Linked DNA regions of Homo sapiens: region 2 is linked to region 1. Evidence: fine-mapped expression QTL. Tissue or cell type: sun-exposed skin. Region 1 holds a variant in brackets; the other region holds the start of a gene. All regions are shown on one strand. Distances are between the middles of the regions.

What was found. PIP is the estimated chance that this variant, and not a neighbour inherited with it, causes the effect.
Region 2: it holds the start of ODF2L, and the variant in region 1 is fine-mapped to the expression of ODF2L in sun-exposed skin (GTEx, PIP 0.96).

The regions. Positions count from the first base shown.
Region 1 is chr1:86,294,731-86,302,841 of GRCh38, forward strand. The region is part of intron 3 of LINC02795 (long intergenic non-protein coding RNA 2795); the gene reads right to left. Among named protein-coding and RNA genes, the nearest start is that of LINC02795, 21 kb to the right of the region's middle. The variant C/T (reference allele first, on the strand shown) is at 3,348.
Region 2 is chr1:86,393,171-86,401,281 of GRCh38, forward strand. It overlaps ODF2L (outer dense fiber of sperm tails 2 like), which reads right to left and starts at 3,153. Exons shown (of 17, transcript NM_001366781.1): 1 at 2,863-3,153. RefSeq lists an enhancer at 3,078-3,127.

The sequences.
Region 1 (8,111 bases):
CAGTGGTGCTATCTCGGCTCGCTGCAGCCTCCGCCTCCTAGGTTCAAGCGATTCTCCTGTCTCAGCCTCCCAAGTAGCTGGGATTACAGCTGCCAGCTACCATGCCTGGCTAATTTTTTGTATTTTTAGTAGAGACGGGGTTTTACTATGTTGACCAGGTGGGTCCCGAACTCCTGACCTTGTGATCCACCTGCCTCGGCCTCCCAAAGTGTTGGAATTACAGGAATAAGCCACCATGCCCAGCCTATTTTTCTTATATTATGTCATTCAGGGACTGTGTCCTTTGATTCTAACCAATGCAGGATTTTTTTTATCCATATGTATCGAACAAGGTCAATAATAAAAGAAATGATTGAATTTGCATTGGAAAATAAATATTTCCTTCTCCTCATACTTCTTGGAGAATGTTTTAACAGTCTCCAGCCAAAGTTTGAAACTTCTTAATTTAAAACTTTTTCTTTTCACTCATTCTCAGTTTTTGTGGAGAAGTAGCAAATAGGCTTCCACTCATGTACCAACCCTCACTAATTTGGTGCTTTGGGTTTTTTTTTTTTTTTGAGACAGGGTCTCACTCTGTCACCTAGGCTAGAGTGCAGTAACTTGATCACAGCTCACTGCAACCTTTACCTACCTGGTCCCTGACTTATTTTTTATGGCCACCAGATGCTGTATGTTCTATATTTTTTTAGTACTATTTCTACCTTTTTATATTAATTTTTTTTAAATTTCTGAATTATAACTTTTTCTGGTATGAGAGATAATAGTTACTTTTCAGTGAATAGCCAATTGTCTAGCAATAATTATTAAATTGATGTAAATGTCAATTTTATCATATGGTGAAATCCCATAGATATGGCTATTTTGTTTTTAAACTCTTCTCTGTTCTACTGTTCCTCTTTTATGTAGTCAAAACTATATTGATAGTAATGATAAAAATGGCTTTAGAGTTATAATGTCTAGATTAGAATTATATTTTCATTGTTTACTGGCTATTTAATTTTTTGCAAATGTATCTTTTCTAGGCCTCAGTTTCTTCCTCTAAGTATTAGGTCTTAAAAATGCTATCTACTTCATAAGGTTTGGAAGATAATTAAATGACATCAGGTATGTAAAACATAGCACAGTGTCCAGCACACAGTAAGCCTTCAATAAATGTCATTAAAAACAATAATAGTAATAAAGCTTTATAGTGTGTTTTCATACCTAGTAGGTAAGTCCTCTCATGTTATACTTTTTCAAAAAAAAATTTATTTGCTTGTTTCACCTGTTACCAACCCCATTGCCTCTGTGTTAAGTAAGAGTGACTCTCCAAGATCCACCACAAGATTGCAGGAGAAATGCAGAATGGTGGGAACAGATCTTCCAGAGTCACTTTGTTACTAACATTCAGTCAACTGTAGGGAGGAGAGTGGAAGGGACAAATATAGTCTTTCTGTGATCGGTATGCCTTCTCTCACTCAAACAACACAGCTCACAATGATTAGCAACAGTTCTAGAAAAAAGTGGCCTTTTTTTTGACACGTCTTTTCAGAGAATGCTTTCTTGCTACTTCTCCCCAGCTTTGCAGTTAAATAATTACATTCTTCAGAAATCCTCTTGCTTCTATAAACTAAAAATAAAATCCTAAGTCCCTCAAACTGACTGGATGGACCCTGCCCCCTTGGCCAAGGGGACTCCGGAGAAACCTTACAAATTTAGTTCCCAGCCATGACAGGATGGGAGGCCCGACACCCCTTGTTACACCCGCCTCCTTTTGTGGTTTAGACACAACTGACCAGCAGTAATGTCAAAATAGATATCATATGACTGACAGAATGGACTTTTTGTGGAAATAAGATACCAGATTATAAATAGGACCTAAGGCCATGCCAGAGAAAGATTAAATCATACACCCTACAGTTAAAGAATAAACTACGTGCAAAGTGCTACAAGGTTTTTCTTTTTCTCTAGAAGCTAAACAAGCACTGGCCTTGAAATAAACAATATTAAAACAATTGCAACTCACCACCAGATGCTCACTAACTGACACCCTGTTCCACGAGCCTTGATTGGACAACAGACTGATTTCTGTAACTTTCTTCTGATGAGAGATCACTTATTATGAACTGGTTCTGGTGGGTTTTACAGAGACTGCACACTGGAATGCCTTCGTGTCCCTGCTTCACCTTTTGGCCTAGCTGTAATACATTTAAATGTTAATCTTCCACCCCTAAGTGAACATGGGTGGTGTGTAATATGCATGAGGACCACCTTCATGAATATTAATAGCTCCTCCTGTAACCTGTTGAATATGTATACTTGGCCAACCCATTCAAAAGGAATCCCTGTTCCATCCGCCTCTGCCTCAAAGTGCTTTTTTTAGATGGTGGTTGTGCTTCCTGCCTGGAGGTTGTAATCTCCTTCTTAAGAAATAAAGCTCATAAGCTCATCCAACTGAATGATGAGGAACCAAAAAAGAAAAAAAGGAAATAAATCTCTCTTTTTCTAAATTTATACATTGTTATACATAGTGATTTTTAAGTTAATACTTCTTATCATCCCTTTACTCTCATCATGTTTAGCACAAACTAGCCATTGTCTGTTCTGTCATTGCAGAATTACATACTATACTGAATAATTTGGAGAGAAATTTACCTCACCAGATCCTAGCTAGGAATAGGCACGTCTGTCCATTTATTTATTTTGTTCCTTAGCAAAGGTTTTTTTTTGTTGTTGTTGTTTTGTTTGTTTTTACTTTAAGTTTTGGGATACATGTGCAGAATGTGCAGGTTTGTTACATAGGTATACATGTGCCATGGTTGTTTGCTGCACTTAACCCATCATCTAGGTTTTAAGCCCCATATGCATTAGGTATTTGTCCTAATGCCCTCCCTCCCCTTGCCCCCACCCCCCAACAGGCCCCAGTGTGTGATGGTCCCCTCTCTGTGTCCATGTGTTCTCATTGTCCAACTCCCACTTATGAGTGAGAACATGCAGTGTTTGGTTTTCTGTTCCTGTGTTAGTTTGCTAAGAATGATGGTTTCCAGCTTCATCTATGTCCCTGAAAAGGACATGAACTCATTCTTTTTTATGGCTGCATAGTATTCCATGATGTATATGTGCCACGTTTTCTTTATCCAGTCTATCATTGATGGGCATTTGGGTTGGTTCCAAGTCTTTGCTATTGTAAATAGTGCTGCAGTAAGCATATGTGTGTGTGTGTCTTTATAGTAGAATGATTTATAATCCTTTGTGGGTATATACCCAGTAATGGGATTGCTAGGTCAAATGGTATTCCTGGTTCTAGATCCTTGAGGAATTGCCACACTGTCTTCCACAATGGTTGAACTAATTTACACTCCCACCAA[C/T]GGTGTAAAAACTTCCTATTTCTCCACAGCCTTGCCAGCCCTTAGCAAAGTTTTAATAGTGCTCTAACTTCCCTTATCCCTTCCTTTCTCTCTCTCTTTCTTCTTTATTTCCTTTCTTCCATGTTATATAGAGTTAAATATTTTTTAATTTTTGTGGGTACATACTAAGCATATATATTTATGAGGTACATGAGATGTTTTGATGCAGGCATGCAATGTGAAATAAGCACTTCATGGAGAATAAAATACCCATCCCCGAAGCATTTATCCTTTGAGTTACAAATAATCCAGTTATACACTTTAAGTTATTTTTAAAATGTACAGTTGTTATTGTTGACTATATTCACCCTTCTGTGCTATCAAATACTAGATCTTATTAATTCTTTCTATTTTTTGTACCCGTTAACCATCCCTACCTACCCCCGGCCCAACCTCCCACTACCCTTCCTAGCCTCTGATAACCATCCTTCTACTCTTTATGTCCATGAGTTAAATTGATTTGATTTTTAGATCCCACAAATAAGTGAGAACATGTGATGTTTGTCTTTCTGTGCCTGGTTTATTTTACTTAACATAATCACCTCCAGTTCCATTCATGTTGCTGCAGATGATTAGATCTCATTCTTTCTATGGCTAAACAGTACTCCATTGTGCATATGTACCACATTTTCTTTATCCATTCACCTATTGATGGACACTTCGGTTGCTTCCAAATATTAGCTATTGTAAACAGTGCTGCAACAAACATAAGAGTGGAGATATCTCTTCAATATACTAATTTCCTTTCTTTTGGGTATATACCCAGTAATGGGATTGCTGGATCATATGATAGCTCCATTTTTAGTGTTTTGAGGAACCTCCAAACTGTTCTCCATAGTGGTTGTACTAATTTACATTCTCACCAACAGTGTACAATGGTTCCCTTTTCTCCACATCCTCACCAGCATTTGTTATTGCCTGTCTTTTGGATATAAGCCATTTTAACTCAGGTGAGATGATTTCTCATTATAGTTTTGATTTGCATTTCTCTGATGGTCAGTGCTGCTGAGCAGTTTTTCATATGCCTTTTGCTCATTTTTTATTGGGTGATTAAATTTTTCCCATATAGTTGTTTGAGCTCCTTACAGATTCTGATTATTATTCCTTGTCAGATGGGTAGTTTGCAAATATTTTCTCCCATTCTGTGGTTGTCTTTTTATTAATTGTATCCTTTGCTGTACAGAAGATTTTTAACTTGATATGATCCCATTTGTCTAATTTTGCTTTAGCTCCCTGTGTTTGTGGGGCATTGCTTAAGAAATCTTTGCCCAGACCAATGTCTAGGAGATATCCCCCAATGTTTTCCCATAGTAGTTTCATAGTTTGAAGTCTTATATTTATAAGCATTTAATCCATTTTGATTTGATTTTTGTATATGGAAAGATAGAGGTCTAGTTTCATTCTTTGGCATATGGATATCCAGTTTTCCCAAAATCATTTACTGAAGATACTATCTTTTTCCCAGTGTATGTTCTTGGCACCTTTGACAAAAATGAGTTCACTGTAGGTGTGTGGATTTATTTCTGGGTTCTCTATTCTGTTCCATTGGTCTATATGTCTTTTGTTACGCCAATACCATGCTATTTTGGTTACCATATCTCTGTAGTATATTTTGAAGTCAGATAATGTGATTCCTCCTGTTTTGTTGTTTCTGTGTAGGATAGCTTTGGCTATTCTGGGTCTTTCGTGGTTCTATGTAAATTTTAGGATTTTTTTCTATTTCTGTGAATAATGTCATTGGTACTTTGATAGGGATGGCATTAAATCTGTAAACTGCTTTGGGTAGTATGGACATTTTAACAATATTGATTCTTCCAATTCAGGAACATGAAATATTTTTCAATTTTTTGTTGTCCTCTTCAATTTTTTCTTTAGTGTTTTATAGTTTTCATTACAGAGATCTTTCATTTCTTTGGTTAACTCCTAGGTATTTAATTTTATGTGTGGCTGTTGTAATTGGGATTACTTTTTTATTTCTTTGTTTAGGTGGAGTCATTAGGTTATTCCAAATATAACATCATATCATCTGCGAACAAGGATAATTTGACTTCTTGTTTTCCAATTTGGACTCCCTTTATATCTATCTTTCTCTTGTCAGATTGCCCTAGATAGGGCTTCCAGAACTATGTTGAATAACAGTGGTGACAGTGGACATCTTGTCATGTTCAGGATTTTAGAGGAAAGGCTTTCAGTTTTTCCCCATTCAGTATGATACTAGCTGTGGGTCTGTCACATATGGTGTTTATTATGTTGAAGGGTGTTCCTTCTATACCAAGTTTTTAGAGGACTTTTATCATGAAGAGATGTTTAATTTTATCAAATGCCTTTTCAGCATCAATTGAAATGATCATATGGTTTTTATCCTTCATTCTGTTGATATCACATTTATTAATTTGCATATGTTGAACCGTCCTTGCATCCCAGGGGTAAATCCCACTTTGTCATGATGAATAATCTTTCTAAAGTATTGTTGAGTTTGGTTTTCTAGTATTTTATTGAGGATTTCTGCATCAATATTCATCAGCAACATTGCCCTGTAGTTTTCTTTTCTTTTCTTTTTTATTTTTTTTAATGTGTCTTTGTCTGGTTTTGGTATTAAGGTAATACTGGCCTTGCAGAATGAGCTTGGAAGGATTCCCTCACTCCTGCATTTTTCTGAATAACTTGAGTAGGATTAGTATTAGTTCTTCTTTAAATGTTTGGTAAAGTTCAACAGTGAATCCATCAGGTCTCCAGTTTTTCTTTACTGGAAGACTTTTTATTAAGGCTTCAATCTCATTACTTGTTATTGGTCTGTTCGGGTTTTGGATTTCTTCCTGCTTCAATCTTGGTAGGTTGTATGCATCTAGTACTTTGTCTATTTCTTCTAGATTTTCCAATTTGTTGGCATATAGTTTCTCATAGCAGCCACTAATGATCCTTTGAATTTCTGTGGTATCATTTGTAGTATCTCCTTTTTTATTTCTGATTATATTTATTTTGATCGTCTTTTTTTTTCTTAGTCTGGCTAAAGGTCTGTCGATTTTCTTTAAGTTTTCAAAAAACCGACTTTTTGTTTCATTGCTTTTTCATTTCAAATTCATTTATTTCCACACTAATCTTTACTATTTCTTCTACTAATTTTGGGTTTAGTTTGCTCTTGCTTTTCTAATTCTTTAAGATGCATCATTAGACTGTTCATTTGAAGTTTTTCCTCTTTTTTGGTGTAGGCAGTTATAGCTGTAAACTTCCCTGTTAATACTGCTTTTGCTGTATCCCATAGGTTTTGGTATGTTGTGTTTCTATTATCATTTGTTTCAAAAAAGTTTCCAATTTCCTTCTTAATTTCTTCATTGATCCACTGGTCATTCGGGAGCATATTGTTATATTTCCATGTATTTGTATAGTTTTCAAAATCCTCTTGTTACTAATTTCTAGTTTTATTCCATTGTGGTTAGAGAAGACACTTGATATTATTTCAATTTTTTAATGTTTTAAGATTAGTTTTATGACCTTACCTATGGTCTGTCTTGAGAATGATCCATGTGCTGGAGAAAACAATGCATATTCTGCAGCTCTTGGATAAAATGTTGTGTAAATATCTATTAGGTCCATTTGGTCTCTAGTGCAGATTAAACTGATATTTGTTGACTTTCTGTCTGGAAGATCTGTCCAATGCTGGAAGTGGGGTGTTGAAATCTCCATCTGTTATTGTATTGGAGCTTATCTCTCTCTTTAGCTCTAATAACATTTCCTTTATATATCTAGGTGTTCCAGTGTTGGGTGCATATATATTTAAAATTCTTATATCCTCTTGATGAATTGACCACTTTATCATTACATAGTGACCTTCTTCATCTCTTCTTATAGTTTTTGTCTTGAAATCTATCTTGTCTGATATAAGTATAGCGACTCCTCCTCTTTTTTGGTTTCCATTGGCATGGAGTATTTTTCCATCCCTTTATTTTCAGTCTATACATGTCTTTACAGGCGAAGTGTGTGTGTGTGTGTGTGTTTAGTAGGCAACAGATCAATGGGTCTTGTTTTCTCATCCATTCAGCCAGTCTCTGTGTCTTTTAATTGGAGAGTTTAGTCCATTCACATTCGATGTTATTATTAAGTAAGGACTTACTCCTGCCATGGAAACTCCTTCTGCACACATGCTTCTATAACCAGAATAGGGAGCAGTAGCGGTCTCCAGCCAGAAATAATTACTCTGACCTTAAAGGAAACACAGCATTTCTGGCTGCAACCTATTGGCTAAAACAAGCCACCTCAAATGTAAATGTCAAAGGGGTGGAATAGTGCAATCTATAAGATGCCTGGAAGAAGAAGAAGTGAAATATTCTGAATAGTGTTACTGTTTCTTTGTCTTATTCTTCACTTTAATGAGAAAGCCTCTAGGTTTTAGTACCAGGCATAATATTTGTTTTTGTAGTTGCTGATTTGTGTAAAAAGTCTTTTTTATCATAGTAAGCGAGTTATCTTTTCTTGCCATGTGTTTTTATCAGGAAGGAATGGCAAATTTTATATTTTAATATTTATAGAAATAAATATATTTTATTATATTTTTCCCTTTGAATCTGTTATATAGTTAATTATATTAATGGACTTCCTATTTCAAACTATTCTTGCATCACAGAGGGAAAACCCTACTAAATCACAGTTTATTATCACATTCTGTTATTTGTTAATGCTCTGGATTTGATATATTTAAAGTTTTGGGGGGACTTTTTCATCATCATA
Region 2 (8,111 bases), 98 kb after region 1:
TCTGAAGAGAATAGCATATGAAACCTGCACATTTTGTTTTGCCAAACACAAATTCTTAGAAAACTAACTTCCACTGGCTTCAAACACAGCTTCTACTGAAAAAAGTCACCATGGCATATTCAGCAAGGAACACAAAGTAGATACAGGAATCCTCTTTTTTTCCCCCTACTATTCTGGACACTAGTCAAACGTTTACTAGAGAGGTAATTGTATGAAAAAAAAAAAAAGGATAGGAATCTTGGAAACAGGCAAAAAGCTGGAAAATAAATCTTATGCGTAAAAGCTACCAAAATGGAAAAAACGTTTTCTGATACAGAGAGATTAGATTAGATAACAAATTAGTAATCCCTCTCTCCAATGAAAAAAGAAGGATGTATATTTAAAAGATGGGCTGCAGACTGGATAATATAGGAAGAAGAGTTGACAGCAAGAGTGACTGTTCTGTAAACACGGCATGTACTTCAAAGCCAACATTCCATTTCCTTCTCAAAGTGTTGCCCTGATTTCTCCAGCCCATCAAGAACTCTAAACAAAAGTATTTTCAGAATCATATAGTTTAGAATTTAACTGCTCCATAAATGCTCATATTTTAGTTCTCTTTTAAACTTGCTATTAACTGTGAGGACAAATAATACGCATCACTCTCTGCCCTAAAAAATTACCTAACACAGTGGGGAGCATAGATTAGGTTCTCAAATATAAGTTAGGGTGACTAAATTATTTACTGTTTAAACTCGGACACTTTTGAGTGTCCATATAGAGCCCAATTACCCGGAAAAAGACCTGGCCAAAGATGTTCAGAATATTGTCTAATCCCAAATAAAGTCACCATCCTGTACCAGACAAACATAAAGCATATTCCTTTCCTTCAACACGACAGCTGTTGCCATTTACTGAGCAGAGCACTGACTGACCTTATAAACATCATCTCACAAAAGCTTCACAAGGTTGTTATTAAAAAGCTATAAATAAGTAAATTAAATCTTAGAAGGGTTAAATAGCTTGTCCAAGATTACAAGTAAGGAATTGGTGGAACTCAGTTTTGAATTAAAAGCCATGAGATGGTGAAACCGCATCTCTACTAAAAATACAAAAATTAGCTAGGCGTGGTGGTGGGCACCTGTAGTCCCAGCTACTCGAGAGGCTGAGGCAGGAGAATCACTTGAACCCGGGAGGCGGACGTTGCAGTGAGCCGAGATCGCGCCACTGCACTCCACTGCGGCAGAGCGAGACTCCATCTCAAAAAAAAAAAAAAGCCATGAGATACTAAAACATAAATATAAAAATCTACAAAGCAAAAAGTAACACACAAACTTGCCTTTATTCAGTCAGGTTTTAATACTCATAAGTTCAATTTAGATTCAAAAGATGAAAACTGTTCTGGACAAGGAAATGAGTGATGAATGAGCTAGCTAAAAGCACAGACTACAATTCTAAAGAGAGAGAGCAGACCGCGACCAGATCACTAAATTCCATTGTTCTAAAGTTTGTCACAAGGAACTTTTGGGATAGAAAAACTACACTATAAATACACATCCATTGTGAAATAAGAAGATGAAAAAGAGAAGCAAAAAGCAAATCATAAACATGATCATGACATTCTTACTATAAGCAGAATATCAAACTAATTTCAAAAGCAGACAGGTTTTCTGCAGTTTGTTTCTTTTTCCTTTTTTTTTTTTTTTTTTGAGACAGAGTCTCGCGCTGTCGCCCAGGCTGGAGTGCAGTGGCGCGATCTCGGCTCACGGCAAGCTCCGCCTCCTGGGTTCACGCCATTCTCCTGCCTCAGCCTCCCGAGTAGCTGGGACTACGGGCGCCCGCCACCACGCCCGGATAACTTTTTGTATTTGTTTTAGTAGAGACGGGGTTTCACCGTGTTGGCCAGGATGGTCTCGATCTCCTAACCTCGTGATCCGCCCGCCTCGGCCTCCCAAAGTGCTGGGATTACAGGCGTGAGCCACCGCGCCCGGCCCGGTTTGTTTCTTTAACCTTAACTCAGTTGCACTTAAAACTCCAAGAACCTCATTCATTCAAAAACACTTGAAACCGTACTATGCGTTGCGTGATGAGGAAACTGTCTTCGAAATAGATTTTATCCCCAACAGCAGCCCCAGTATGGTTATTCTCAGTAAACAACAAGCACCACCACTCACTAACCACCTACATTCGGTGCCACCTTAATGGCCCTGCGTTTACTTAATCTCGTATTACAACCACCCCAAAGTGATGATTACTGTTACAGTTATCAGTAAGGAATCCAGGAAGGTTCAGTGACCTAGACAAGGCCACACAGCGGGTTCAGTGGCAGAGCTGGGACTGAACACAAGTCGGCCTTTAGCACTCTCCACGACCCTAGGTCAATCCCGCACTACAGGGGTCGCCTATAGGGGCTGGAACCTAGAGGAATCCTGGAGAAGGAATTATTTCCTGAGGATTCCTGTAATATACCTCACTTACGAAGCCCCCAGGGCTTCCTACAATCTGATATATCACATGATGGGCGATTAAAAACCAGCCCAATGATTAAGAGGTCACTATTTCTGAAAGAAATGCAACCATATCCAGGAACGGCCCGGTCAGGACTTCGTTCTGCACAAGCCCACCTCACGCTAACATTTGCCCTGATGTCCCGGGGACCACACCCTTCCTAAGAGTGAGTCTCGCCGCCCTTTTCCCAGGCCAGGTAGTCAGCCTGAGGGAGGTGGAGGGTTTGCGCGGAGGGGGCTGGGTGGGCGCGAGGGCCTTTTACTTCCGGGACCCACCACTGCCCTCACCTCCAGACCGCTAAGGGCTCCCGCGGTAAACGCCCAGCAGCAGCTAGGCTCCCCACAAAGTCGCCCCCAACCCAAAAGGCGTACTTACGCCCCCGCCGCTGCGTCCGCACGTCGTCGTGACGACAGCCCGCCGTCGCCGCGATATAAAAAAAGGGTCAGAGGCGCCACGGCTGCTGCAATGGAAACCGTGGCAATCCTTCTTGTGCTCTGAGTCGGCTAGGAGGGAGCGGGACGCAGGGGGCACTACAGTGGGTAGACTAGGAAGGAAGGCAAGGGACGCGAGGTGGGAACCAGGCGAATTCCTAGACCTGCTTGCCGCAGAAGAGTGCCCGCTCAAGTGGAACAAAAGCGCAGCTAGTAACCGGCTAGTGGCTTCTCTGGCAACGGCGGCCCCACCCCTCCCGTCAGGCCCGCAGCAGGCTGCCGATTGGTCCGGGTTAGGGACGGCGGGCAGCGCCTATAGCTATTGGAGAGGGTGAGGAACGGGGCAGGGAGGGCAGCTTCGTGTCTATCCTTGTTTCTCGGGTAAACATTTTTTTTTAAGCGTTTGTTTATGGACAAGGACAGCATTTGTGTACGTTACCGAAAATCATAACCGAGCCCAACTAGAAAAAAAGGAAATAAAGCCAATTCCGAGTTTTCTGGCGCTTGGCCTGGTTGTGCCCTGCTTTTGCTTTTTAAAGAGAAGATTTGAAAACGTGAAGGCAACTGCGACCGGAAGAAACCTCCTTTTAAATGTATAGTAGTATTTTTAGCTGAGATGCCTCCCTGGGCCTCAGGTTTTTTCCTGTTAAATGAGGAAGCCTGAGGATGTTCTGCAAGGTGCCTTCAGGGTCTCAAAGTCTTTCGTATCTGTGCCACAGCCAGCTGGTCTGGTTTATAAAGTCCTGAAGAAGCAAAGCAAGATTTTAATTGGAAAAATATCTTCATTCAATGCCTCTACTTAATATTCATGTTAAGAATCGTACACCAACCTATGAAGTTCACAAGTAGAGTAACTGTCAACTAAGCCATAACCGTGGCATGCTGCTACCTAAATAATTGGTTTCACTAAAGCACTCCAGCAATGTTTTTCCACCAGTACTGTAATTGTCCCTTTCATAATTTAAAGCGGGAGACAGAATTAGTAAATTTTTTAGTAAAGGGCCAGTGATATGGTTAGGCTCTGAGTCCCCGACCACATCCCATCTTGAATTGTAATCCCCATAATCCCCACGTGTCAAGAGAGAAACCAGGTGAAGGTAATTGAATCATGGGGGCAGTTCCATAATCCCCACGTGTCAAGAGAGAGACCAGATGAAGGTAATGGAATCATGGGGGCCGTTTACCCCCATGCTAGTGAGTTCTCAAGCTATCTGATGGTTTTGTAAGGGGCTCTTTCCCCTCCACTGGGCACTTCTCCTTAACGAAGAAGGTGTCCTGCTTCCCCTTCACCTTCCGTCATGATTGTAAGTTTCCTGAGGCCTCCCCAGCGACGCTGAACTGTGAGTCAATTAAACCCCTTTCCTTTATAAATTACCCAGTCTCAGGCAATTCTTTATAGCAGTATGAAAATGTGCTCATACAGCCAGATAATATTTTATTAATAGGTTTTGCAGGTCATATGGTCTCTGTGATACTATTTAACTCTGCCATTGTCTTACCAAGAAAAGCCATAGATGATACATAAACATAAACATATGAGCTCACTAAAGTACGTTTGTGTGCAGGATGCAACACTACAGTGTTGGGTAGAAATTGTGATTTCTATCTTCATGGCAACAAATGGGGACTAGAATGTAAAAATAGCAGGCAATGAAATAGAATAAAGATACTTGAATACAAATAATACTTCAAAATTAAAAAGCAACATTTTAGATAACCTGTTTGCAGAGGACAAACAGAAGGTTAAATGAAAGTGTGATGGAGAATCACCACCTTTACATCTTTGCACTCTTTAATAGTGCCACTAATCACTGGAATTCCCCTAGGACTATGGTATTGCCTTTGGTTTAATCTTTTAGTAGATAAGGGCAGTTCCAAAGGCTTCCACTTTGTCTTCCTATTATAATAGCCATGAGTCAAAAAGCCAATGTCAAGATGCTGTAAATCTCCTTTAAGGTTATGACATTCAGGTCTCTTCATTAGTTCTGGTAAATTTTTTGCTGTACAAATTAAGTAGAATCTTAGCAGACTATCCATTTCAATTATAGGGGCAGTGATTAATTATCAACTCCTAAAGATCCCCCTTAGTCAAACAATATGATACACCCTGCTGGTATCATGGTATCAACAGATATCTCATCTCTGATGGCTCAGTGGTATCACTTGGCCTCTATCACTTTGGGATCTTACTATTTCCATTAGGGAATTAGGGATTTCATGCAATGGCAGCATCTTTATCCCCAGGCTTATAGAATAGCAGCTACAGAGCTTTTAAAGGATTCTGGCATTCCCTATATTTTCTCAATGCTTTAGTAAAAAGAAGGTCCTTTGGCCCTCTCAGAACACCTTTGAAAGGAGATGACTGGGTAACATATGATAAATCCATTCATACAGTACTATTCCCTAAGTCTTCTTTAAAAATTGATACATACTAGATGTACATATTTTCAGGGTACATGTGATAATTGGATACATTTATATGAATGTGTAATGTGTAAAGATCAAATCAAGATAGTCAGGATATCCATCACCTTAAATATTTATCTTTATGCTATGAACATTCAAATTGTTCTCTTCTAGTTATTTTGAAATATACAATAGATTATAGTTAACTATAGTCACCCTACTTATCTGTCAAACACTGGGTCTTATTTCTTCTATCTAACTGTATGTCTGCACTCATTAATCAACCTCTCTTCGTTACCCCTTTCCCTAAGTCTTTTAATTCAATCCTCTAAAATCAAGAGATTTCTAACATCTCAACTTTATTTAGTTTCAATCAACCAACTGAGCAAACCTTGACAGCCACTCCTAGATGTTCAAAGCAAGAACAGTGAATTATGGTCTCTGGTAAATGTATTCATATTAATATCTTGGTCTCATCAAAAATATTCCTTCATCCCTGGTCTGCCACACTTGGAATTCATTATCATTTTCTATAGTCTTCTGCCAATATAAATAAGCAAAATCTTGCACTTTTTTGGTATGAAACCCTTCTCCCAGGTCAGATCTTTTATTATACCCTGGAACATGTTGGGATCTAACTTTAGATCTAGACCAGTGGTTCTTGACATTTTTTTTGCCACAGCCAAAGAGGAAGGGCAAGTGTCCTACTGGCATCTAGTGAGTAGAGGCTAGAGATGCTGTTAAACATCTGCAATGCACGGGACATCCTCCACAACAAAATGTCAACAGTGCTGACATTAAGAAACCCCGGTCCAATATGGAGAATACAAAGGCCACCAGCCACCTATAGCTATTTCAAACATTTGAAATGTGATGATTCTGAATTGAGACATGTTGTAAATGCAAAATACACACATTTTGCATATGAAAAAGAACATAAAATATCTTGATTTTCATACTGATTATGTCGAAATGATATTTTGGAAGGCAGCTATACTCACCACTATACCACCAATGCCACCAGAAATGATATTTTGTTTATGTTGAGTTAAATAAAATATATTACCAAAATTTAACCACAACTATTTCTTTTTCACTATTTTAAGAGTAGCTAGTAGAAGATTTTAAATTACGTATGTGGCTCACATTATATTTCTACTAGGTGATGTAGTCTAGAGGTATAAAGAACTGATAACAGTTGAGTTCTGAGAACAATCAGTTCTTCTCAATTGATTCACAAGGTAAATTCCTCAGATTAAGTTACTTCAGAATTTTCAAGGAGTACAAGACCAGCCCTATAGATAGGAAGGGAGGAGTTCTTCAGAAAGCAAAAAGCTCTGTAGTGTCTGCGTATTAAGATAATAGAGCTATCCGAATTCACCCAACCTCTCTATCACAACTCTAAAGATCCAACTCCTTCCCAATCAATGCCTTAATTTCTTACATAAGAGACCTGAGGAGTCTGTTTATTCAACTTACCTTGTAATTTAGCTCTTCACAGCATTAATACTTGATTTGGATGTGTCATCCCAGCAATTAATAAAGTTTTAAGGTAATCATAGAAGTTCTCTGGGCCTCTGAGCTTATCACATTTTTCTTTAAGCATCCTAGTACAGTCATAAATAGAAAAATCACCCCACAATCTTTGTATTCTTCATTCCTGCCATTCCCAACAAAGGTATGCCTTCAGTGACTACTTAATTCCTGAGGATTATAGGCCACTTTTAAATGGTTGTATAATTTATATTCAATAAAGTACATATGTATTAAATGTTCAGAGTATGACTTTTGCCAATTATATAATTATATGCACTCATGAAAATAATACCTAAAACAAAATTTAGAACATTTATGTCAGTCCAAAGTGTTTATTTGTATCTGTCTGTAGCTTGTCAGTTCACCAAAACTACCCTCATGCCTCTCCATCCTCCCCTAGCCCACACACAGAGAGACTACTACTTTCTAATTTATATGACTAGAGGTTAATATTGCCTATTCTTGGTGTTCATATAAATGGAATCACACAATATATATTCCTTTTTGTCTGACTTCTTTCATTCAAATAGGCATGTGTGTGTGTATATATGTATATATGTGTATATACATATATATACACACCCACATATTTGAATGAATATATATATATATATATAGCGAGAGAGAGAGATTGAGATTCATCCATGTTGTTGCATATTTTAGTAGTTTGTTCTTTTTTTTTGAGATTGAGATTCATCCATGTTGTTGCATAGTTTAGTAGTTTTTTTTTTTTTTTTTTTTTTTGGCTGAGTAGTTGATATAGTTTGCATGTTTGTCCTCTCCAAATCTCATGTTGAAATGTAATCCCCAGTGTTGGAGGTGGGGTCTGATGTTGGAAGTGTCAGATCATGGGGGCATATCCCTCATGAATGGTTTAGTACCATCCCCTTGATGATAAGTGAGTTTTGGTCTGAATTCATGTGAGACCTGTTGTTTAAAAGTGTGTTGCACCTCTCCAATCCCAACTCTTGCTGCTGCTCTCATCATGTGATGTGGTTGCTCCCCTTAACCTTCTTGTAAGCCATAATTATAAGCTTCTTGAAGCCCTCACAGAACCCCAGCAGATGTTGGTGCAATGCTTGTACAGCCTATAGAACTATGAGCCAATTAAACCTCTTTTCTTTATAAATTACCCAGCCTCAGGTATTTCTTTATAGCAACGTAAGAACAGCCTACTATATAGTAGTATTTCATTGTGTAAATATACCACAATTTGCTTATTAGTGCTCCTGTTGATAGATATTTAGGTTG